Regions from separate parts of the Homo sapiens genome. Here region 1 is linked to region 2. Evidence: fine-mapped expression QTL. A gene starts in region 2. The other region holds a variant in brackets. All regions are shown on one strand. Distances are between the middles of the regions. Region 1 overlaps GTPBP10 (GTP binding protein 10). Region 2 holds the start of FAM237B (family with sequence similarity 237 member B).

The links.
Region 1: its variant is fine-mapped to the expression of FAM237B in thyroid (GTEx, PIP above 0.99).

What each region holds. Positions count from the first base shown.
Region 1 is chr7:90,368,680-90,378,959 of GRCh38, forward strand. It overlaps GTPBP10 (GTP binding protein 10), which reads left to right. Exons shown (of 10, transcript NM_033107.4): 5 at 3,476-3,549; 6 at 5,623-5,675; 7 at 8,828-8,935; 8 at 9,455-9,532. Among named protein-coding and RNA genes, the nearest start is that of GTPBP10, 27 kb to the left of the region's middle. The variant C/G (reference allele first, on the strand shown) is at 4,423.
Region 2 is chr7:90,315,405-90,325,684 of GRCh38, forward strand. FAM237B (family with sequence similarity 237 member B) reads right to left here and starts at 5,900. Exons shown (of 3, transcript NM_001384237.2): 1 at 5,518-5,900; 2 at 5,277-5,323; 3 at 1,403-4,347. The coding sequence starts at 4,344. The coding sequence ends at 3,925. It also overlaps a transcript of CFAP69 not described here.

The DNA of each region.
Region 1 (10,280 bases), 53 kb after region 2:
TTAGCCATTCGTCTAACCTTTTTTGAAGGTTTTTAGCTTCTTTGCAATGGATTAGAACATTCTCCTTAGCTCAGTGAAGTTTTTTATTACCAACCTTCTGAAGTCTACTTCTGTTAATTTGTCAAACTCATTCTCCATCCAGTTTTGTTCCATTGCTGGCGAGGAGCTGCAGTCCTTTGGAGGAGAATAGGCACTCTGGTTTTTGGAATTTTCAGCTTTTCTGCTCTGGTTTCTCCCCATCTTTGTGGTTTTATCTACCTTTGGTCTTTGATGTTGGTGACCTACGATGAGGTTTTGGTGTGCATGTGCTTTTTGTTGATGTTGATGCTATTCCTTTCTGTTTGTTAGTTTTCCTTCTAACAGTCGGGCTTCTTCGCTGCAGGTCTTTTGGAGGTTGCTGGAGGTCCACTTCAGACCCTGTTTGCCTAGGAATCACCAGCGGAGGCTGCAGAACAGCAAATATTGCTGCCTGATTTTTGCTCTGGAAGCTTTGTCCTAAAGGGGCAACCCCCTGTATGAGGTGTCTCTTGGCCCCTACTGGGAGGTGTCTCCCAGTTAGGCTACTCGGGGGTCAGGGACCCACTTGAGGAGGCAGTCTGTCCCTTCTCAGAGCTTGAACACCATGCTGGGAGAACGACTCTCTCTTCAGAGCTGTCAGACAGGGACGTTAAGGTCTGCCAAAGCTGTCTGCTGCCATTTTTTCTGATATGCCCTGCCCAGAGAGGTTGGATCTAGAGAGGCAGTAGGCCTTGCTGAGATGTGGTGGACTCCACCCATTTCGAGCTTCCAGGCCTCTTTGTTTACACTGTCAGCACAAAACCGCCTCCTCAAGCCTCAGCAATTGCGGATACCCCTCCACCTGCCAAGCTGCAGCTCATGGCAGGTCAATCTCAGACTGCTGCGCTAGCAGTGAGCAAGGCTCCGTTGGCTTGGGACCTGCTCAGCCAGGCACGGGAGGATATTTCCTGGTCTGCCGATTGCAAAGACTTGGGGAAAAGCGCAGTATTTAGGCAGGAGTGTACCACTCCTCCAGGTACAGACTGTCACGACTTCCCTTGGCTAGGAAAGGAAAATCCCCCGATCCCTTGTGCTTCCCGGGTGAAGCAACGCCCCACCCTGCTTTGGTTTGCCCTCCATGCACTGCACCCACTGCCCAACCCGCCACATTGAGATGAACCAGGTACCTCAGTTGGAAATGCAGAAATCACCCATCTTCTGTGTCGATCTTGCTGGGAGCTGTAGACCAGAGCTGTTCCTATTTGGCCATCTTGGAACTTAACTCTTACAAAGACGTACAGAGTGTTATAATGGGCATTGGAGACTCAGAGGGAGGAAGGATAGGAGGGCAGTGAGGGATGCAAAACTACCTATTGGGTACAATGTACACTGCTTGGGTGATGGGTACACTAAAATTCACTGTTGAGTGAGAATGCAAATTAGTACAACCTATATGGAAACAGTATGGAGATTTCTCAAAGAACTGAAAGTAGAAATATCATTTCATCCAGCAATCCCACTACAGGATATCTACCCAAAGGAAAAGAAGTCATTATATTAAAAAGATACCTGCACACATGTTTATCACAGTATCATTCAGAATTGCAAAGACATGGAATCAACCTTAGTGCCCATCAACCAATGAATGAAGAAAATTGAGTGTGTGTGTGTGTGTGTGTGTGTATCTATATATACACACACACCATAGAATACTACTCAGCCATAAAAAAGAATGAGGACATCTTCCTAAGTGAAGTAACTCAGGAACGGAAATCCAAGTGCCACATATTGTCACTTATAAGTGGGAGCTAAGCTGTGCGTACACAGAGGCATGCAGAGTGGTATAATGGACATTGGAGACTCGGAGGGAGGACAGGAGGATGGGGAGGGATGAAAAACTATCTGTTGGGTACAATGTACACTACTTGGGTGATGGGTACACTAAAATCCTGGACTTCACCATTACACAATGTATCCATGTAACAACAACAACAAAAAAATCACTTGTACCCCTAAAGCTATTGAAATAAAAACATTAAAAGAAATAGGTCGGACATGGTGGCTCACACCTGTAATCCCAGCACTCTGGGAGGCCAAGGTGGGCAGATCACGAGGTCAGGAGATTGAGACCATCCTGGCTAATATGGTGAAACCCCATCTCTACTGAAAATACAAAAAAAATTAGCCAGGCATTGTGGCGGGCGCCTGTAGTCCCATCTACTTGGGAGGCTGAGGCAGGAGAATGGCGTGAACCGGGAGGTGGAGCTTGCAGTGAGCCAAGATCACGCCACTGCACTCCAGCCTGGGCAACAGAGCGAGACTCCATCTCAATAGATAAATAAATAAATAAATAAATAAATAAATAAATAAATAGATATGAGCTATTAAGCTATGAAAAGATGAAAAAAGTTGCAAAAGTTTAAAGATAGTCATTGCATTGTTTAAAGTTATTTTAAAAAAACAAATAATACACACTTGTTTGCATAAAGAAAAAGTTGTCTATGAATTCCACCACCCAGAGATGACTATTAACAGTGTCTGTCTACCTGTATACACATTTTTTACAATGTTGTTTAGAGTGAAAAATTGTAGACAACCTGAAAGTCTGTCAATAGGAAATTAGTTAAGTAAATTACACTTCACCATTGAAAAGTGTTCACCTTATATGATTCAGTTTAAAGAGTAGGCCAAGCAACTATAAAGTAGTTTTCCCCTACTTCCTTCAAAAAAATATGAAAACTTGAACATTAAGACTCTATAAAAACTGCCAATTTTTTGCAGACAATAGAGGGAAAAAGAGCATGTTAAGTGTCCATGTAGGTGCTAGTAGAAAAATGAAGACTTTGGAAAAGAAACTCTGTAGGACAACTGACCCAGTTTCTTTAAAAATAAAATTGCAGATAGGAAACAAGATGGTAGGGGGAGCTTGAAAATAGATTTGAGACACACCGGGTATTTGTAACGTACAGACCTTACTTGGATTTCTATTCAAACCAAATTTTAAGAAGTATATTGCCAATGTATTAATATTTGTTGAAGCTAGGTGATAGCTAAATGGAATTCATTACACCTCTCTACTTTTGTATATGTTTGAAACTGTCTATAAAATTTTTTTTTAAAGCAGTTTACAAAACAAGGTAATGTTTTGTCAGTGTATAGCTGGAGTTAGAAAGTTACAGGTGTTTTTCTTTTTTTTCTTTAATTTCTGTTTTTTCTATGACTTCCAATGGGTTTTTATTTTTAAATCATAATTGGAATAATTATTATACACTTTAAATATTGAAACATCTTCAGTGTCCAGCATGAATTTATCTTTACCTTTTATGTAAGTGTATGTTCTCAAGTTTTTCAAGATTATTTATAATACATTTATATTCTACTTTTAATCCCAAATATATTCATGAAGTCTACTTGAATTGTTAGGAATTCAGAGATAATAATATTGACATTTGTGTATAATTTTATATTCTTGTTTCAGATTCCCAAATGCTGGAAAATCCTCTTTGCTAAGTTGTGTTTCTCATGCAAAACCTGCAATTGCAGATTACGCATGTAAGTGTAATTTGATTGTACATTTTAATGAGTGGAGGTAAACTTTTAAAGACTAATATTTCTCTGAGAATGAATAAAATGATAACTCGGAGGGTATCCTTAACTGAAAAATTTTTGGCAGATAGACTACTGTTGCACAGGCCAAAGTGCAGTTGCATGATCATGGCTCACTGCAGCCCAGGCTCAAGCCATCCCCCTGCATCAGCCTCCCATGTAGATGGGACTACAGGTATGTGCCACCATGCTTGGCTAACTTTTTTTTTTTTTTTGTGGGGACAGGGGTTTCGCCATGTTGCCCAGGCTGGTCTTGAACTCCTAGGCTCAAGTGATCTCCCACCTTGGCCTTCTAAATTGCTGGGTTATAGGTGTGAGCCACCCTCCCCAGCCATATTTTCCATTAATCTTTGAAACCTCTATACCCCTCAGCAAAGTTGCTTAAACAGGTTAGACACTTACTTTATTGCATTTATTTTTCTGTCACAGAATCGTTTATTTGGTTTAGTTAGGATTTTATGAACCACTTACCTTTTATCAGGCACTGTGATAAGTACCAGGAAGGTACTTATCATTCATTTAGCAGATACTTATTTTTGGAGCCACATTAGGTTCTGGGATTACAAAGACTGATAAACAGAAACAGCTCCTGTTTTGACTTGTATTGAGTTTGTAGACTAGTGGAGTAAGGCGTACATATCACTAATAAATATAAGGGAATATGAAAGGGTACTATGAAAGAGTATAGATGACTGCTCTAGGCTTCCTTAAGGATGTGTGATTTTTGGACTGGGATATGAGGAATAATTATGAGGTAATTAGTAAAATAGAGTGGAGGGTGAAGGGTCTTTAATCAGAGGAAATAGTATGTACACAAAG[C/G]CTTAGTGGTGGCAGGGAGTAGATTTGTGTGTCTAGAGAACATGAAATAAGGGAAAGAATCGAGATGAGCCTGGAGATGTAAGAGAGCATGTCACATAGACCATTTAGGCTGTATTTGATTTTTATATCTTAAGAGCAATTGGAAGCATTTAAGCAAGGGATAAAATGCTTAGGTTTGCTCCTCACAGAGATCTCGGCCTGTAATGTAGAAAATGGATTGGTGTGGGACATGAAGGGTCTGAGACAACCAGTTAGTAGGCTCTTGTGGTAGCTAGATGAGATATAAAAGAAGCTTTGGTTAAAAGTAGTGAGTATGATAAGATCTCTGCCATCATTAAAAGGACACAGAATGCCATTAACTTGGAAAATAAAATCAAGCCATTCTAAAATTAGACTGTGACGAAGTAGAGTGAAGTTTGGACTAAGTGCTATAAATCACAAGGCCAATATTTGTTATAATATATGTAGGACTTGAGAAGGAAGAGCAAAAAGTCATAGGAAAGAGGCTAGCGTAGGATTGATGAGGCTTAAGGATAACAATGAGAAGGAACTAGAGGATAACTGAATGAGAAGGAACTAGAAAAATTTCAGCCACAGATCCAGTGATAGAAACTTAATATCTGACCCTCCTGAACATCTATCACTCACCTTAAAGTGCAATAGAAGAACGTTGAGGTTCAGTAATTACATTAGGCCTATACAGATTATAAAAATCTGTGTTTGTCTTTTTCCAAATACTATTTATTCATTTATTTTAGAGACAGGGTCTAGCTATGTCACCCAGGCAGGAGTACAGTGGCATGATCATACCTCACTGTAACTTTGAACTCCTGGGCTCAAGCAATCCTCCCACCTCAGCCTCTGGAGTAGCTAGGACTACAGGTGCACTGCCATGTCTGCCTAGTTTTACATTTTTTGTAGAAACAGGGTCTCACTATGCTGCCCAGGCTCATCTTGAACTCCTAGCTTCAAATGATCCTCCTGCCTTGGCTTCCCAAAGCATTGGGATTACAGACATGAGCCACAACATTTGGCCCTCCAAGTACATATTAAATAGCAAAGATAATAATAGTTTCCATTTTAGCAAATTAGAACAAAATCTGAATTGAAATATTGTTTATGCATAATACCAAGACAGTTTTGAGAGTACCAGCCCTAAAATAAATTCTAGCCTTAATTTATTGCTGTGTTTCCTTTTAGTTACAACATTAAAGCCTGAACTTGGAAAGATAATGTACAGTGATTTCAAACAGGTAGGTATTTTTAAAGTAAAACACTATATTAGAAGTCAAAAGTACTTGGTTTTGGTACGTACTTGGATATTATAGTTTTTGCCTGTTTCTGTGGTGTTAGGGGAGAAAAAGTAACAAGATTTTGTTTATGCTAAGTGAAACTGGTCAAATTAATTCTGAGCACTATCATAATATATTTAATTTCTTCTTCCAAAGATTAGGTCCAGTTTATCCCTACAACATTATGTCTTCTTCTTAGCCTTAGTTTCTTCTTATTGCAAGTCTTTCTTTTACTACTATATTGGATTATTTATCTTCATTTTTTAAAAATGCTCTCTAAAGTTCATGGTAATGATTTTATTCCAACTTTTCTTTTTTTGAGAAAGAAAATGTTTTAATGGAGTTTTGGTCTCAACCAGCTATTAAAATTCATTTTTTCCTTCACAAGTAACAACAGTGGATCTTCTGTATAATTAGAAAAAAACTAAAAAAAGGAAAGTAACAATATTTAAAATATAATGTACAATCTAGTAGTTGTGCTCCTTAGCATTTACCCATGTACATTGAAAAGTTATGCACACACAGAAGTCTGCACATGGATGCTTATAGCAGCTTTATTTGTAATTACCAAACCTTGGCCAAGATATCTTTCAGTAGGTGAATGGGTAAATAAACTGTGATATATATTTAGACAGTGGATTATTATTCAGCTCTAAAAAGAACTGGGCTATCAAGCCTCAAAAAGACCTAGGGGAACCTTAAATGCGTAATACTAAGTGAGAGAAGCCAATCTGAAAAGACTGTGTGATACTGTATGATTCTAACTATATGACATTCTGGATAAGGCAAAGCTGTGGAGACAGTAAAAAAAAAAAATGAATGATTTCCAGGGTTAGGGAGGAAGGAGAGATGAATAAGCAGAGTACAGAGAACTTTTAGGGTACACTATAAAGTACAATACATATAGTAAAGTATGATACTATATAATATTACAGCAACATTGTGTTGCTGTAATGGTAGACACAGTATACATTTGTTAAAATCCATAGAATGTACAGCACCAAGAATGCAACAATGTAAAGTATAGACTTTGGGTGCTAACGATGCATCAATATGGGTTCATACAGTTTTATGACATAATTTAAAGAAACATAAAAAAGTATTTGGTTATAATAGTGATAATAACAGTAAAAGATAAAACCAGTTATAATATAGAATGTTAACTGTAAGTAAAATTGTATTAAATATAGGATAATATGAATATATAGAACAATATTTAGAGGAAAAGAGAACATCATTTATACCGAATTTTTAAGGGAAATCAGTAGAGGAAATTTCAGGACATGAGACTTCTGTTGTGCATGCTGCTTTGTCAGCTTCCTTTAAGACCCTGAATTATTTATCTACACTGGGCAAGGGATGTCGAGTACTGCCTCTCATTCTTTATTGCACTTCAGAATTATCTGGGTGGTCTAAGAACAGCAATGATGAGTGATGCTTAGGCCCCAGAGATTTGAAACTAAATCTCTTGGGGGTAGGGCCTGGGCATTTGTAGCTTCTAAGAGTTCCCTACGTGATTATGATGCACAGTGAGGTTTGAAAAGCACAAGTGGCCGGGTGTGGTGGCTTACACCTGTAATCCCAGCACTTTGGGAGGCCAAGGCAGGCAGATCACGAGGTTAGGAGATCGAGACCATCCTGGCTAACATGGTGAAACCCTGTCTCTACTAAAAATACAAAAAAAAAAAAAAATTAGATGGGTGTGGTGGTGGGTGCCTGTAGTCCCAGCTACTCCAGAGGCTGAGGCGGGAGAATGGCGTGAACCTGGGAGGTGGAGCTTGCAGTAAGCCAAGATTGCCCCACTCCACTCCAGGCTGGGCGACAGAGCGAGACTCTCTCAAAAAAAGAAAAGAAAAGCACAAGTGTAAAATGATGGTTAATAATGATTATTCCCTCTAAAAGGAGTCTAGGAAACTGTATTCTTTTATTATGTTGGTACAAAAGTAACTGTGGTTTTGGCCATTAAAAGTAATGGCCAAAAGTAGGAGAAAGTAGGAGAGCCACAACTACAACTTGGGTTTGTCGAGTGCTGTTTCACCTGACTGATCTTACTTGAATACTGGCACAAAATGAGATGATGACAAGGTGACAAGGAAGCATGCTCAGGTGAATGAACTTCTAGATGATAGAACTCTGCTCCTCATGTAATGCCATGAGATTTGCTTAAGTATAAACAATAATGACCTACAAAAATGTGAAGCATTAACAAACATGGCACTGCAAAGAACAGGTGAGGAGAATCACACCTCTATTAATGTAGTAAAGTCTCTTAAAAGTAATGCCAAAACCACAGTTACTTTTATACCAACCTAATACTTTGTAAGAATGGTCGATAATCCTGCTAGTATAATATGAACAGAAAAGGAACAATTGGTGCCAAATAAATAATTACAAATTGAATTTAAAATACAGAGCTGTACCTGGTAAATGTCTGCTGAATTAATAACCTCATAGATTTTTACGAATTTGGAGTATAAAGGTTGAAATTCTGTGAAAAGTTCATATTGGACAATACCATTTAGGAAATTATAAATAAATTTTAAACTAGGGATTAGTGTGGTGGCTCACGCCTGTAATCCCAGCACTTTGGGAGGCTAAGGTGAGAGGATCACTTGAGGATAGGAGTTTGAGAGCAGCCTGTGCAAGATAGCGAGACCCTGTCTCTACTAAAATTTTTTTAGTTAACTGGGCATGGCGGTACGCACCTGGAGTCTTAGCTACTTGGGAGACTGAGGTGGGAACATAGCTTGAGCCCAGGAGTTTGAGGCTACAGTGATCTATGGTCACACCACTGCACTCCAGCCTGGGTGACAGAGCAAGATCCTGTCTCTAAAATAATAATAATAAATAAATAAACAAATGTTAAACTAATCTGTAAAATTCCTAGATTATTAGATTAATAGTAAATATGGGACTCTAATATCTGATAACAAAATTTTAATTCTTAATACTGTACATTAATTTTACTCTTATACTTGGCTTTTCAAAGATGTAGTGGTAATCATAAGTTAGGAACTGTTTATATTTGAAATATCTTAAAAATTTTGGGATGTAATTGAACTTGCGGTTTTCATACATTTTCCTTTTTCATTAACCATTTAACTTTGTATTAGATATCAGTAGCTGATCTTCCGGGTTTAATAGAAGGAGCACATATGAACAAAGGAATGGGCCACAAATTCCTCAAGCATATAGAAAGAACTAGACAACTACTTTTTGTTGTAAGTCATATGTATACTAATGTGATATTCAAATAAATTGAAAACCAGTGAATTTAGTTTTTCTAGAATTTTTTTATAAATAAGAAAGTGGTAGCATATGTTACTCCACTAAGTCTTTTATAATATGGGGATGGAAGTGACATTGTTTACTATATCATATGTAAGTTTGGCCATACTTGCCAACATGTATTTCCTTAAGATTTCCAGCATACTACCATATTATATAGTATCATAGTATCTCTTTCATTCTTCACTGATGATGCTAGAGTTATATATGAGATTGTCTTCATACAAATTGTCTTATCCTAGTTTTTTATTTTATTAATAACTGTAATTTTATCAGAATAATTAAAGTTATCTTAACACCTCGATTTCTGTTACTTATTTTGAATTACTAAGTAACAAGTAGAGTATAGAGAAATTGTTTTTAGCTTGAGAGAGTAAAACATTTTAAAACATAGAAATGTATAGCTATTCTTCGTATGTTAAAGGCTGTCTCTTTCCTTCTCTTTTTTTTAGGTTGATATTTCTGGATTTCAGCTTTCTTCTCACACTCAATACAGGACAGCTTTTGAAACCATAATACTGCTTACAAAAGTAGGTTTTCTGTTTTACTGTGTTCTGTATTTGGTCTAATACATAGGAATGTAAGACTATATGAAATAACATAATTACAGTCTATACATACTCCACCTTTAAAGCTTTGATGTCAGTTAAAGAATTACTTAAACTTGTTGTCTCCATTTCCTCTACATTCATTTGCTCCTCAAACTACTGCAGTGGATAAAACACTCCTGGGCTTCCAAATCCCCATTACATACTTCCCAGGTTTTTATCTTGCTTCAGCTTTGGCACATTGTTTAATTCCTCTTGTTTCTCATTCTTAGTTTTGTGACCGGTAATCTTCTGGTTCTATTTCTACTCTTACACTATTTCTCCGTCTACTTTTTAGGCTCTTTTTTCTCATCCTTTAAGTAACATTATTCAGAGTTCTGTCCTAACCTTATTTTCTATCTTACTCACTCCCGTTGCTTTAGTTACAATTAATAATATTGATGACTGCCAGATCTGTAGCTGATACCTAAATCTTTTCATTGTTCTTTCTTTTTTTTTGAGACAGAGTCTTGCTCTGTCTGCCAGGCTGTAGTGCAGTGGCATGATCTCGGCTCTCTCTGTCTCCCGGGCTCAAGTGATTCTCCTGCCTCAGCCTCCCGAGTAGCTGGGATTACAAGCGTGTGCCACCACGCCCGGCTAATTTTTGTATTTTTAGTAGAGACAGGGTTTCACCATGTTGGCCAGGCTGGTCTCAAACACCTGACCACAGGTAATCCACCCACCTTGGCCT
Region 2 (10,280 bases):
ATGGAATGCTATGCAGCCATAAAAAGAATGAGATCATGTCTTTTGCAAGAACATGGATGGAGGTGGAGGCCATTATCCCTAGCAAACCAACACAGGAACAGAAAACCGAATACCGCATGTTCTCACTTAAGTGGGAGCTAGATGATGAGAACTCATGGACACAAAATGCGGAACAACAGGCACTGAGGCCTACTTGATTGGTGGAGAGTGGGAAGAGGGAGAGGATCAGGAAAAATAACTATTGAGTACTAGGCTTAGTACCGGGGTGACAAAATAATCTGTACAACAAACCCCCGTGAAATGAGTTTACCTATAGAACAAACCTGTATGTGTACCCCTGAACCTAAAACAAAAGTTTAAAAAATAAACAAAATTAAAAGTTTATTTAAAGTTTAAAAAAGATTCTGGCCAGGCTTGGTGGCTTACGCCTGTAATCCCAGCACTTTGGGAGGCAGAGGCAGGTGGATCATCTGAGGTCAGGAGTTTGAGACCAGACTGGTGAACCTGGTGAAACCCTGTCTCTACTAAAACTACAAAAAATTAGCTGGGCATGGTGGCAGGTGCCTATAATCCCACCTACTTGGGAGGCTGAGGCAGGAGAGTCACTTGAACCCGGGAGGCGGAGGCTGCAGTGAGCCAAGATCACGCCATTGCACTCCAGCCTGAGCAACAAGAGCGAAACTCCGTCTCAAAAAAAGAAAAAATAAAGATTCGATAGAAACAGCAGAGGAACTTTAGACATAGATAATTATTATCCCTTGTATCATCTTATGAAGAAATATTTGTGGGGTCAATATTAGATCCTTTGCCACCTTTTTTCTCCTCAGCCTTAAGCTCTCTGAAAAATAATCGGTTATGAGCTAAGCCAAATGAGCTCAGCATAAACCCAAAGCTGTGAAACTGAATCTTTACCATGGTACCACTGCAAGAATTGGTGGTTTGTTTTTTAAAATGATCTCTAGACTGTCAAATGATTTTGAATAGGACAAAAGAGAAATACATATTGTCCCAATTCAGCTTCATTTTGACCACCTTCTTTTTTATCTTCTATTTTGATATCATAAAATTGCTTTTGAATTAGATCTTTCAGTCTATCCCTGCATTGTCCCACTTCAGTGTCAACTCTGTGAGTCAAAGATTACGTCTGGATTGTTCACTAATATACCCTAAAGCTTAATGAATATTTGTTGAATGAATGAATGATGAACAGAAAGAAAAAGTTTTTTTATATGCAGATGACACTATTTGTGCCAAAAACGGGGAGGAATTTACGGTATGTAATCATCATCAAAAAGCTTAAGATGAGTTGTTTTAAAACCAGATTGCCCAGTTTAGCAAATGTTCTTATTTTTAACCCAATGTAGTATGTAAATTCAATTAAAAGAACTAGAAAACCATTTTGCCATTAACTGGAAGACTAATTTTATTGATTTAAGCTAAAATGTTTATCATCGCTGCAATAAAATTGTCATGACAACTATGAGTGATTGAGGACAACTGGTTGAACAATTTTTTAGACTAAAAGTACATGGTCTCACTTTACAGCATTGAACTTTTGAGCTTCAATCATTTGCCCACAGACTGTAAAAGAGAACTGTTTTTTTTGAGGAAAACTGTAATACTGCCTCTAGGTACCACTTCGGCTCCTCTGCAGGAAATGAATTCTAGGTGGATAGCTGTCAGGTCATTTTTTTTTTTTTAGACCAAAAGCAGTTTAATGATAAAGAACACAGATGTTCAATATGGAGATGAGAAAGGACAGGAAAGTTCTTGGCAAGATTAACTCAACTTTTTACTCCTGTCACATAAATGTGACTCCTCTCAAATGAATCATCACTTTTCGATTAGAGCTAAACAGTAATAAAGTGTCAATATGAAAATATGTTGAAATTTAAAAACTCATATCAGACTAATTATTTGTCATATAAATTCCACAAATCAAAAGCTTAATGGACATAAAATCACTCATGTTTACACGCTGTCTGGTCATTTTTATGAGAACATTAATTAGCCCTACCCTCCAACCAGTTGATTTTCTGAGCTTAGGGATCCACCCTTAATTGGCAAGATAAGAAGTTTTCAATCTAGGAAATTATTAGCCCTACAATCTTATATTATCTGCTACTCATGCAAAATTGGTTATATGAAATAATATTGCCGAACGCTATGAGGTCCTTTAATATTGAAAATTCCTAACCTGGGGTTTATGCAGCCCCCTGAAATTACATGCAAAATGTAATTTTAAGAGTGTTTATATATAAAACCCCTAATAAATGGTCTATACATCATCAGAATTTGAAAGTGGTCAATAATGCAAAGAACGTCCCTCCTTTAATTCAGCTTATTCTTGGATCAAGTCAAACCATCAGGCAGTTCGTTACTTGTTCAGTATTATTTTAGCCGATTTTAAAACTTTTTATATTTGAGTTTGAGTGTACTGGAATCAGACTGTAAAGGAGAGAATCTGTCATTGTAAGGATACTTGAAACCAGTGTTGTAAACCATGGTAGCCACTGTGAAAACCTATGGGTGAGATTTTCATTGATTCTTTGTCCTGGAAAAGGCTGGACCTCTGTTGAACATATGGTTTGGTTTTTCTTATAAGCATGTGAATCTTGAAACTGTTCATGTGTCCCTCTTCACTAGGAGAAGTGGGAAACAGACCAAATTTATAGGCACCCTTTATCAAAGGTATAGGCTTTTACGACATGCATTCAAAAAGTATTAATCTAAACCGTAACTCCATTGTATTACTTCCCTGTCTTCATGTCCCAATGTTCCAATTTCCTCCACTACTTCATGTTTTCCTTTTCTTCGGTATATTTCTTTAAAGCTTCACATCCTTTTTGAAATAAGATGTGAGATATAAATAGGCAATATAAAAAATAACTCAGCTAACACAAAAATTCTATCAAATTGTACTTTACTGAAATGAAGTTTCTGTCTTTGTTTATTGTTCCTTTTTCAAAACAAAGACAATAAAAATGAGAACATAAAAAGGTTTTAGTCCTTAATGCATAGAAAAATACTTTAATATAGAAGATGGCTTGGTAATGAAATGTACATTTCAGAAACCACAAAATATACTACATTAAATATTACTTTTTAGGATAATACTGCCATTAGTTTTGGCACAGTTTAATAGTCAATATTAATATATAAGATACCTTATAAAATTGGTTACAATTTTATTCCATTGACTATTGTATCTAAAAAATATATCACATTTGCCTTTTAACTGATGTTTTCTTTAAAACAAAGACACTTTAAAAAGACACCTTCTAAGTAAAAAATTGAGAAATTATCTGAAAATATTGGAATAATTCAATAGCAATAAAGCAATTACAACAAAAAACAACGTTTATCAGTATTAAATAATTTGTATAACTATGACAAGAAATATTTGACCTCATAAATACAAGTTTTCAGGTCGCTGTCATCTTGCTTGAGGTATTTTACATGTTTTCTCTTAAATGTAATACTCTCATTTTGTAAAATCTAGTCCTGTAAGATTTAAAAGAAGAAATTGTTAATATTCATTCCAATATGACTCTTAAATTTCCTGCTTTTATACAACCCTATTGAAAAAATTAATTTCAAAAGCCTAAATACATGTCTGATGTTTAAAATTTCTTCAACAAATGTAATATGAATAATTACAGGGTTAAATGGCTTTCTTATGAACTATTCATGGGCAAACAAGGATAATTTTAATTATCTACCAAAGTGTATTATATTCCAAGATCATTTAAAATTGTAAGTCAGAGCTTGTGTGGTTTGTAAATAATGTAAAATGAGTAAAAATGAGAATCAAAACCTATCATTTTAGGGAAAAAAACTAAATATGGTAAATTTGCTACCTTGTTGGATAACTTGAAAAAAATCAGAAGAATTAAATAGTGACTTTTAAAGAAAAGTAAACTGCTATTCTCTTAAATACACATTTAAATTACCTCCTGTTATTTTCTGTGGAAAATTATATTTGGGGGGCATCACCTGTCTTCTGCCCATTCCATGAGATCTTGAAAGCAAGCAGTCTACATACATGTCCCAGAAATCCTGAGCTATGTTTAAGAAGACATTATAATGTCCAGGCCGCTGAGATTTTTGCAAGAACAACATGAAATTCCAAAAAGCATCCACATTGTGCTCTATCTTGAGTTCCTTGAGATCTATCAATGTCAAAGAGCAAGCTTTCCAGCACTGGAGATCAATGTCTTTGGTGATTCCTGGGCTGATGCTGGCAAGCACTCCTTTTTGAAACTCAAAGTCAGCATTAACCAGATTGATCAGCATCATGCAGCCCAAATGTAGATAGAACCATCTTCTTGTAGCAAAACACATATTCTATACAGAAAAAAAAATGAGAGAGGATATATTTAACTTAAAAAAGTTATTCAATCACTTGATCTAAAAAACTGTAAGTACACATATATTTGCTTTTGATCAAGCCAAATCTGCTTACTAGGTATTCATTTTTTCTAAATTACTGATTATCACATCTTCCTTTAGGATATTACAGTTCCGGTTTGATTTCCAACGTTCTGATCAAGAGTCTTTGAAATGCAACACATTTATGAAAATGCAAAGGTTCATTTCATCACAGACCTTTAAAAGTGGCAGAAACCCTAAAGAGCTTATGCTCCAACCTTCTCCCTTTACTGATTAGATCATTAGTGATACGGTTCCGCAAGTCTTCAGACTCCTGACTGCCTATCCAAGACTCCTACCTACCACAACACATTTCAACTAAGTGGATCAAAATACAGTCCTTTCTACATGTAACATAGGAAGTATTTTGTTGTTGTTAATTGAGATATTATTAACCCAAATGGTACTAGATCTCACAAACACCGTTTAAGTCTCAAAGTTACTGCTATTTCCATTTTCATGTATTGAAAAATACTTGTTACGCACTAATATCCGGTGTATTCTTGGCTTCCCTCTGTTTAGGAGCTGGTTGGAGAAGATGAACGTAGACATACATGAAGTGGCACGAAAACAAAGGTGATATAAGGTAGGATGAGATAGTGCAGGGCCCATTACATTCAGCAAAATCTTGACATTTTTCTAATGCCTCTTTGCATGCCTCCTTGCCAACTGATTGTTGGGTAAAATCGGCCCAAAGCACATAAGAGGAAGTTAAAGACTAAGTTGGCATTGAATTGCCACACACCTGCTATTCAAGGCTGCTGTTGGAAATGTCCCTTTTACAACATTGACAGCCAACGGGGAGGGATAGGGAGAGGAGAACAGATCCAGAACACAGGACTCACCTTTCCCCCCGTACACAGCCGTCTGCCACCTCCCTAAAAAAGTTGGGCTGAAGAGAGAAATCATACGAATCAAATCTAAACAGGACATTCAAGTCATTTCACATCGTCGAAAATTGTGCAAATTCCCCAGACTGAGCTGAAAGCTGGCAGTTTATGATACATGATGTATCAGAGGGAATTTCTTCCCCCTCAATTTCAGGCTAGCGCCTCTCCCTGTGCCCCCAGCCCTGGGTCAGGTCACCTGGGCGCAGAAGAGGGAGGCCACGCGGGAGTCGAGGACCTCTGGTCGCCGTCCGAGGAGCGCGTCCCGGCGCGGTGTCCTGGGTGCGCTACGCTCGTTGGGAGGAGGACGGGGCGCCTCCTGCCCACGAGGAACCAGAGGTTTCAGCGGGGACGACCCCTGCCCAGGGCGCCCTCTGCCCAGCGGACCCACTTCCCGAGGCAGGCGAACTGGGCGAGGCAGCGCTGTGTCACCCACCCCGAGCGCTCACCGGGCGCCCAAGCTCGCTCAGCGGAACCGTCTCGGCCGCGGTGCGCTTCGGCGCTGGGAGGCTCTGGCTGGCACTGGCTCACCGCGGGTGGAGCTGCCGGTTCTGCTGCGGCCACGCGGGGTTCCCGAGACAGACCCGCCGCTGGGACCGCGATCCTTTTCTAGAGGCTGAGTGAGGGGGCAGATCGTGGGTGGCCGCGCTCTCGAGGCCCCTCCCTGACCTCGCCCAACTTCCCAGCCTCCAGACCTCGGGGGCCTCTGCGCCCTGCGGCCCTGCTTTGGCCGCTGCTCTCGCCTCTCCTGCCCTCCTCCGACTTTCTTGCTATGCCAAAGGCTCAGGGTCTTCTTCGCTCTCTCCTTCTTACTTTGTTCCTTCTTTTTTCTTAGCTGAGAAGATCCATCTCGGCATTAGTCAGTCCACATACCCAAGTTATCTTCTCCCTCCGCCCACCCATGCTCCACACCGTATTCTCCTATCCAGAGAAAAATTCTCTTAAGGCTGTGAACTCTCTTAAAATGCTAAACCTCCTTGAACGGTTCTAATCTCTAGCTAAACACAGTTTATTATTAACGCTAACACATACACACGCGCAAACATACCCTTGCTTCTACACTGGGGGAAATGTTTCCTTTATCCCTTCATGGATGAAGACCCGAGCAAGTACCTTGAATTTCACATATGTATGTTGTCCATCAATCTCAGCCCCAACACATCACTTGGACTATATATGAGTTTAAGTCTACCTGCTCTGCCTATAGCCCAGCAGCGATGATCAGATGGGGCTAGGGAAATCAAAGCCAGCTGCCTTATCCCCATTTCCCCTCAGGCAGGCCACCCTTCTCACAGGTTCTTGAGCTGGGATGGTGAGATCATGGGGTGAGATGAGTGCCAAACCAAACAGCCCAGTTCCCCAGTCATTGTCCCTGCTAAAGCTCACTTCTCCCAGCACCCACCATTATTCAAAGCTCCACCCTGTTCTCATCCTGTTGGTGGAGCTAACGTAGTCAATCATTAGTTCTGCCCTGGCAATGCCTTTTTATGCCCCTTCTATCTGCAGGACCACCTCCTGCACAAAACAGAACTGAGAAAAGGGGAAGACTTGTTTACTCGGATTAGGTAGGATATACACGAATCCATCTCACACCAGATATTCTTCTGCTGTAGACTTCCAAGTGTTTCAGTCCACCATTAATCATGGACTCTCACAATTAGCAGAGATGCAGAGTGACCTAATCCAACATCCCAGCTGAAACGTGAACAAACCACCCTCCCAAGGAATTTGTCCACCCACCAAAGCTGTTTTCCAATGTGACTTAACCTTGGGCACATGTCCCCACCCCCAAAGGAAGCAACCCCTTCCATCTTTGGGTTAATGTTGGCTTCCTTCTAAAATGAATTGGCTCAATTTCTCTGTTGAGTAACCACATAGTTCCTGTCCGTCTTTTTTGAAAGATATACTTTATTTTTCATAAAACATTTTTATCTGTTTACAAGTATTCAAAACCTATTGAAAAGTTGTAAAATACAGAAAAATGTAAGGAGACAGGTAATAGTTGTCATTAAAATGCATTTTTAAAGAATATTCTAATATTAGAATTAGAGTAATGTACTAAATAGGAGTACATATTTGGGTATGATTATTATAACACACACACAGGAATGGTATTCTGAATAGAGAACTTATATAAATCAATAATAGAAAAATAAGGGTAATTGACAGAAGAGTAGACCTTAATATTCAGTAAACATGAGAAAAAATACTGAAATATTCTAAATTTAGATAGACTTAATAACAAAGCCATTTCAAGGAAATGATATATTGTCTTCCCCAAATGAAGCTTAACAAAAATTAATTTGGTAAAATACAATCTCAGCAATTTTTTGAGAAAATGAACACTTCATATGCTTTTGATGAGACTATCAGCTGGTATAATCACCAAGGAAGAAAACTGGCATTATCTGTTTAATCTGAAAGTGATCTAGAAATTTTACTCTTGGTGTCTACCCCCAAGTCAGTGAGAGAAGATATTCTTTATGTGAGTGATTTTTCTGAAGGGTCTACTTGCTACATTCAAATAGAATCTGGCAAAATGATGACAAACATAATTTTTAAATCATCATTGGGTGATCAAGAAAGTGAAATCTCCAGGGAAAAGGCGGATGGAGGCAAAGCATAAAGAATCAGAATATGGAAAAGAAGAAAGAAGAGAAAGAGAGAAGGAAGAGAGGAAAGTGAGATGTAGATAGTAAGTTTAGGCTTTATTAAAACTGGTATCTACAGTAAAAAGTGAGATATAGATATTGAATTTAGACTTTGCAAAGTTGTTAAATATGTATGGTAAAATTTCTCAGGCAATTCCTAAATGACGGAAATAGAGAACAAAACTCTTGAACCAGGGAGAAAAACAGATTGACAAATAAAAAATTAATTGAGAAAGCAAGAAGAGAGAAAAAAGCACAGCAAAAGTGACAAGTAGAAAGTAAATTTATAAGATTCAAGTCAACAATCATAATAATAGTCTGAACTTCTTGATTAAAGGAAGGAAGATGTGGTTGGATTTTAAATTCTGCTATGTGCTTTTACAAAAGATACACACACCCAAAATGAGGACAGAGAAACTTGAAAAGAATGGAAACAAATATACCATGCACATGTTAATTGTATTTTAAACTGACAGCTTTATTAATACAAAAAAGCACGATGAAGGAGAAAGGGGAACACTACATAATGATAAAAGACTCAATTCAGGAAGAAGATAAAAATATTCTAAATTTAGATATACCTAATAACGAAGCTACAGAATACATAAAACAAAAACTGACAGAAGTAGAGGGAAATTTTCACAAACTCACTATCATAGTGGGAGAGTTCCACAAGCCTTTAGGTTAAGATGATAAATAATACTAAATGTGTAGATGATTTGAACCGTCAAGTTATAAGGAACCATGAAACTTGCAGTTAAAGAACACATTCCTCCCATTAGAAAATAAAGCAAGTCTCGGGTGCAGCACACCAACATGGCACATGTATACATATGTAACAAACCTGCATGTTGTGCACATGTACCCTAAAACTTAAAGTATAATAATAATAAAATAAAAGAAAAAATAAAGTCTCATGAAATTTAAAGCAAGTCTCAACAAATTTCAAAAACTAGTATCACTCAAACTTCGTTGCCTGACCACAACACAGAAAGTTTAAAAGTCTAAAAAGTGTTTTAAGAAATATAAAAACAAGAACGTAGTTTTTCATGTTTTGAAATTTAAACAATAAATGTACTTATTTATGCAATAACTTTAAACAATCGATTTTAAAATAAAATACAATGGAAATTATAAAATATTTCAAACTGTGTGATTAAAAAACATTGCATATCAAAACTTGTGAGAAGCCAGTAAGAGGATCCTTTAAAGGAAATTAACAGCTTTAAACACTTGTGCCAAAAGAAGAGAGGCTGAAAATCTGATAGAGTGATAAATGCAACCAAATTTAACAGCTGGTAAAATAGCAGAAAAAAGGCTCTCAAAAGTTAAGAGATTTTACAAAAACACACATTAGTGAACTAAGGCAAAAAGAGTTGATTCTTTGAATAAAATAAAGCAACCTCTGATGAGGCTGATCAAGAAAGAAAATGAAAGGTAGAAAATGATATATATCTATAGATAGCAAATAAAGATTAAAACTAGATACACGAATACTAACAACCAACATATACCATATATTTGAAATTTTAAATTAAATTAATAAATTCCTAGAAAAAATATCTATAAAACTTGGCCAGGCGCAGTGGCTCACGCCTATAATCCTAGCACTTTGGGAGGCTGAGGCAGGTGGATCACCTGAGGTCCAAAGTTCGAGACCAGCCTGGTGAACATGGCGAAAACCCATCTCTACTAAAAATACAAAAATTAGCCAGGCATGGTGGCGCGTGCCTGTAATCCCAACTGCCCAGAAGGCTGCGGCAGGAGAATCGGTGGAAACCAGGAGACGGAGGCTGCAGTGAGCCGAGATCGCACCACTGCACTCTAGCCTGGGCGACAAAGAAAGACTATGGAAAATAAAAAGAAAAAAGAAAAAAATCTATAACAGTCATGTAAGAATAACTACAAAGCCAGAATAGTAAATGCTGTTTAAAGACCTTGAATAAGTAGTTTAAAATCTTCCCACTGGGAAAAAAAAAATCAAGCCCATATGATTTTGCAGGGCAACTTTCAAGGATCAAGTACTTCCTGAAAATTAGAAAAGAAGGAAATCTCCCAGACTCATTCTAACAAAATGAGACAAGGACGATCTGAAAAAGAGTAAAGTCACAGGCCATCTTACTAATGATTACAGATAAAAATAAATTCTAAACAAAATATTGACATACCAAATTCAGTAGGACTTAGAAAAAACCCAGCAGTATCAAGCTTGGATTATCCTAGGGATGCACGGGTAGTTTAACACAGGGGGGCCCAGGCCGTAGATTGGTACCAGTCTGTGGTCTGTTAAGGACCCAGCCGTACAGCAGAA